Regions from separate parts of the Homo sapiens genome. Here region 1 is linked to region 2. The links come from fine-mapping of genetic effects on gene expression. A gene starts in region 2. The other region holds a variant in brackets. All regions are shown on one strand. Distances are between the middles of the regions. Region 1 holds the start of LOC107984321 (a long non-coding RNA gene). Region 2 holds the start of LINC01616 (long intergenic non-protein coding RNA 1616).

What was found. PIP is the estimated chance that this variant, and not a neighbour inherited with it, causes the effect.
Region 1: its variant is fine-mapped to the expression of LINC01616 in lung (TOPMed, PIP 0.95).

What each region holds. Positions count from the first base shown.
Region 1 is chr11:30,018,747-30,021,677 of GRCh38, reverse strand. LOC107984321 (a long non-coding RNA gene) reads right to left here and starts at 1,114. Exons shown (of 3, transcript XR_001748159.2): 1 at 1,084-1,114. The variant A/G (reference allele first, on the strand shown) is at 1,198.
Region 2 is chr11:29,981,256-29,984,186 of GRCh38, reverse strand. It overlaps LINC01616 (long intergenic non-protein coding RNA 1616), which reads left to right and starts at 1,794. Exons shown (of 1, transcript NR_132652.1): 1 at 1,794-2,931.

The DNA of each region.
Region 1 (2,931 bases), 37 kb before region 2:
TGCTGATATCTTAATTTTATACTTCCCAGCCTCCAGCTCTGTAAGAAATCAATTTATATTGTTTATAAGCTACTCAGTTTATGTTATTTTGTTATTATAGCAGCTGAAATGGAATAAAACACTAATTATAGTAAGAAACAAATATGCTCTTCTGATATCTTAAGTTTTGACCAGTGCCTATATGCGTAAGATAAATTAGGAAGTGGTGGTGAACAGTCATTGAAAAACCCAAGAAAAAACTAGCTGAGTGACTCACATTTTATAAGGAATGATGGGCTGATCAAAATATCCCCATCCATAAATTTGGATATGGGAGCATGGAACCAAATCTCCAAGGCCTTCTCACCACCCCCACGCCCATCACTTCAGAACTTTAAAAGTGAGATAGATAGTTGAGAGGCTGGGGTGAGCAGGTGAAAAAGCAATCTTCTAGTTCTCTCACAACACATTCACTGAACTTTCTTGGCAAAGGGAAGCCTCTTCCATTATTCATTCACATTCTACTCTGGGTCAAGTACAACGCTAGTTGCTCAGGATATAATGTCTGTTCTCAGTGAAGTATCACAGGCATGTTTGGGGAGATAGAGGAGTAAACAGAACATTGCAATTCACTGTGGACCACAGTCCTCAAAGAGAACAAAAACATTTATAATGGGCCTAGCTTGTATCCCACAGGGCTTCCTATCGTGCTTTGTACAGAGACGATCTGTTGGCCTCTGCCACTTTCTATATAAGCAAAGGCTTCACGGTGTGATCTGGAACATTTGTACCACCACTGAGAGAATTCAAAGCCAGGGATACATTCTTTGTGGTAATAGGTGTATTTGGTGGTGGAGAGCTTAAAGAATTTTGACTAGTTGATGACTAAGAAAGGCAAGAAAATAATTTTTTCCTCTTTATAGAAAAGAGGGGCTGGGCACAGTGGCTCATACCTGTAATCGTGGTGGGCACTTTGGGAGGCTGAGGCAGGAGGAGAACTTGAGGCCAGTTTGAGACCAACCTGGTCAGCATAATGAGACCCTGTCTCTACAAAAACTAAAAATAAATAAATAAATAAAAATAACTGGGCATGGTGACACATACCTGTAGTCCCAGCTACTCTGGAGCCTGAGGCAGGAGGATCACTTGAGCCCAGCAGTTAGTTTGAGGTTGCTGTGAGGTGTGATCATGCCAGTGCACTCCAGCCTGGGTGACAGA[A/G]TGAGAACCCATTTCAAAAGAAAATAAAAAGTAAACAAGGTTTGGGGACTAAGACAAGGTAGATTTTTATTGGTCTCAATCAAAGAATCTTTTTGCTACTGTTTATGGGTTCCTAGAAATTCCTAGGATAATTTCAAGGAGAGAAATAGAATGTTTCTTGTTTGCTTTATGAATTAATTATTTAAATGGGCAAAGAGGTAGGGGTGTGTGTGTGCATGTGGTGGGAGAAGGCTGGGAGGGGGCATGCTCTTCCCAGTTGGTCCTAACCTATCTCTAGCTCCAGTTAGTTGCTTCTGTTCCATCCCAGCACTATGTGCCTGTGCATTCTCCATGGCGGCCACTCCAACTCTTATGATTTTTCAGACAGTGCTCTCTCTCCTTGGGAATTCTTGCTTACCGCCTCCACACTAGATGCTGCTTTACTCTTTGCACCAAGGAGCAACATTCTCATACCTCCATCATAACACAAATCCCCTTGCTTCATAATCTGTATATGCATCTGTGACAGCCACTAGCTTGTATGAACAAATGGGCATAGACCACATCACTAGCACGGGGTCAGTCTACACTGCAGAGTCAGATATGTAAGGCCTTGTTCTGCTACATAATTAGCTATATAACCTTTGGGCAAGTTAGCTAATCATTGTAAGCCTTCATTTCCTTTTCTATAAAATAGTGGTTATAATAGTACTTATCACATAAAAAAGCATTTAGTTATGCAAATAAAATTACATAATATACATTCAAAGAACTTAGCACAGAGCCAGGTAGGAGGCAGACACTCAGTTAATCTTACCTGCCTTGCGCAAGTCCTCCTGAGAGTAGAGTTTTTCCTCAGCAGCATTCCTGTCGTATTTTAGTAATTCAGATTACCAACACCTAAGAAATGCAAATATTAAAGTCCTCAGGCATTGAAAACTTTAAAATTATCTGGGATAGGAACAAACAGCAAAAGGGAAGCATAATTCATAAAGTTTAAACACGACTCAATTAAAATATCCAAGCTTCAATACAACTATCATCTCTAGTACATCATTCCATCTCACTTTTCATCTCCCTGAAAGCACTGCATAGCTGTACCGGATTGATCTCATAAACTGCTTTTGGGAAACAGGTCCCAGTCCTGCTTTTTACTATCCCAAGAAATATCCTTCTAATGAGCCAACAATAAATATTACCAGTTATTTGCTTCTGGTACTTATGAAACTGCACAGTGATATCACATTGTGGAGGTACAGAGAGGGTTTGAGGCGAGTGAGCATGATCGTTCTCACTTTTAGAGAAACCCGGTCTTGCTGCTCTTCGAATGAACTGCAGTAGGGAATAAATTGAGGCAAAGAACGTCTCTAGAGCCAGCATGAAGATACCTTTCTCTCAGCTCCACCAGGGTTGAGGCCAGGGGGTTACAGTTAAACTTATTCATGCCAAAATTTCAAGCTGCACTAGCTGAAAGACGTTGGAAAAACCAGGGTGCACTCCAGGTTTCATTTCTTCTTTTTCTTTCACACTGATTACAATTCGATTTTGTGTGTGTGTGTCCGGTTATTTGAAAAGATAAAAGAAAAATCAAACAGCAACAAAAAGCAGCCCTCCAGGTGTCCTTTTCCGAGCCCGCAACGGTTAGGTGAGTGAGTGCAAGGCATATCTATAATTCAGCTCGGGAATATTTCCCTTAATAATTAATTGAGCATCACAAAAGGAGGAGGCCCAATAGAGCCCTTGAACAAAGCTGCC
Region 2 (2,931 bases):
TTCTTAATAGTTATTTATAGCTCTTAATTAATAGTTATTAATAGCTCTGAATGATGTAAGAGGATGTGTTTATATTTGGGGGAAACTTCGGCAATGTGATTGTACTTTTTTTTCTTCCTGGCTCATAATAAAACATTCCCAGGGCCTCTATTTTTGGTTTGGGATATAGCAATTGTATGCGGACATGGCTTGGTCCTCCATTCTTGGCTGGGAATTCTCATTAAAGAGATCCTCTACCATTAACTCACTGTTTGCAAGATCTTGGTGATGAAGATTAAGAGAGGAAACATCTGCCTTTCCAGAAAGGAACCCATGTCATTATTTTGTTTCTGTCTCTGCATTTGGACTTCAACAAATAGAGGTTTGTGGGAAGAGAAAAAGAGTTTACGCATGCTCCTATGATCAGGTGTTGCTCATCTGTGAGTGGGCAGATGAGTGATGCGTGGGTCAAAGATACAGGATTCCCCTGGGGGCCCTGGCTACTCTTAACAACAGGTTGAAGTTTTGCTTTAGGCTAAATGTCTAGAAGATAAAAGTAAAAGTCTACAAACTATTGAAGCTTTGTGAAATTTTAGAACCTACTCAATATGTCTTTTGGAAGAGATGGAAACTGGGAATTTGATAAGAATATATATGAATCCATCTAACCAAGTTTTGACATGTGTTGGGGTGGGATGATTTGTTGGGGAGTATAAGGACCTGGAATGTTTTTTTCATCCTGTTGTCAACCCAGTTTCTCATTCCGCTGTGGCTTTACCCTATTTAAGTTCTATCTGCTTTCTTTAAATATATGAATGTGGGTGTTATGGGATGGTTAGTCCAGATGAGTGTTGGATCATACCCTGTACTTGACTTATTTATTTATTGCAGTTTTCAGGGAGTAATTGATTATGAGTTGGCTCTGTGTCCCCACCCAAATCCAATCTTGAATTATAATCCCCACATGGTGAGGGAGGGTCCTGGTAAGAGGTGATTGGATCACGGGGACAGTTTCCCCATGCTGTTCTCGTGATAGTGAGGGAGTTCTCACGAGATCTGATGGTTTTAAAAATGGCAGTTTCTCCTGCGTGCATGTACTCTTGCTTGTTGCCTTGTGAAGGAGGTGCCTGCTTCCCCTTTGCCTTCCACCATGATTGTAAGTTTCCTGGGGCCTCCCCAGCCATGTAGAAGTGTGAGTCAATGAAACCTCTTTTGTTTATAAATTACCCAGTCTCAGGTAGTATCTTTATAGCAGTGTGAAACAGACTAATACAGCAATTATGTTCTTATTGTGAATGATATAAAATAGTCACAAGTGAGGGCAGAATTCTGTTCTCAGTATTTGCGAATCATCTTGAGCAATACAATAACTCCAAGAACTTCTAACTCTAAAGCATGAGCTGAAGGCATTAAAATCTTTTTTAGGATGTGCTGCTATATTAAAATGAGTCAGTTTCAAACTCTAGGTCCCTGTTTGTACTTTGACTCTAGGCAAATATACAGGAGCCTTGTGAATACCATCTAATGTACCAAAAATTCACTTTGATACAGGTAATTCTGGAGCCCTAACCAAGATTTTCATTTTTCTTTTACTTTTTTAGTTTTAACCAGATATAGCAAAAGGACTTCACTGTAATTCTGTCTTATAATATGGATCCCATGGATGAGGTAGTACAAGTTTCTGTGTGCTGCACATATATATATGTGTGCGTATATATATATTTCCTGTGTTGCATATATATATATGTGTGTGTGTGCATATATATATATATATATATATATGTATGCTACAGGGAATTATAATCTGTAGCAGTTTTCTCAGAGGATCTCTATAGGCAGTTAATAGTAGTTGAAAAAGGAACTGTTTTTGAATTTTTGAGTTAAACAGTAAAACTAGTTTCTTTGTGGTACTTCTCAGAGCCTACAATCTGCTAATGTGTGTAGTGAATTTCCATGAGGATGATGTGTGGACTTTCTCACATTTTTAAATGTAACCCCTCCTCCTTTTATTTTTTGGCAGAGTATCTTATTGGATTTTTGTTTCATAGAATTTGGTCAATGATATTTACAGGATTAGAAATAAGCATTCTTGAATTTTTTTTGAAATTCTATGAAATAGCTCTTGGATCTGGGCTTCTAAGAGTATAGTTAATGCTTCTAAAACTTTAATATGCCTGTACATTTGCTGGGTATCTTGTTAATATGCGGAATTTACTTCAGTTGGTCTCCATGGGGGCAGTGATTTTGCATTTCTAACGTGTTCCCAGGTGATACTGATGCTACTGGTGTTTTAGCAGTCTTCGAGCAGTAAGGCTCCAGATGTATTTAAGTGCTTTCCTAGGTGAAAAGTGTTAAAGATAACCTCTGCCACCTGGCCTGGAGGTAAGGTGTTTAGAGAGGCTTCACCTTAGGGCACTGGAAGTTGGAGCTGAGTAAGTAGTTATACAAGCCAGATGATCTACTTGTATATTACTAATAATCTGTTTATTTTTCATTGTATACTTTTTCCTGGCTATGAGAGATACACAAACATATTTTCAGAATAAAATAGCAAATACCTATATGCTTTGACACTTGCTATGTGTCCAAAATATCCCATGGCCTTTTGAGAGGTCCTTGGTAGGGGAGTTTAGATCTCTGTTCTGTAAGCAATAATATTGAATGGGAAATACACATGTGGAATGCTTAGTTAGACCTCATTTAACCCCTTCCCTATCTCAACATTCATGTCCTCAGCCGAGGACAAAGACTTAACTGACTTTCTATGTGAAAATGTATCAGTGATTCAGAAGGGGTTTTAATTGTTTAAGGCTGGGATAACAATTAAGGTTTGCCTTTTGTGTTAACTCTATACATTTGTTCTTCAATATCTAAAGGGATGTCTATAGAAAGATTCAAGGCTATGGTCTGAGCTTGACGAGAGTGACACATTAGATTAATGATCTCTCTCCT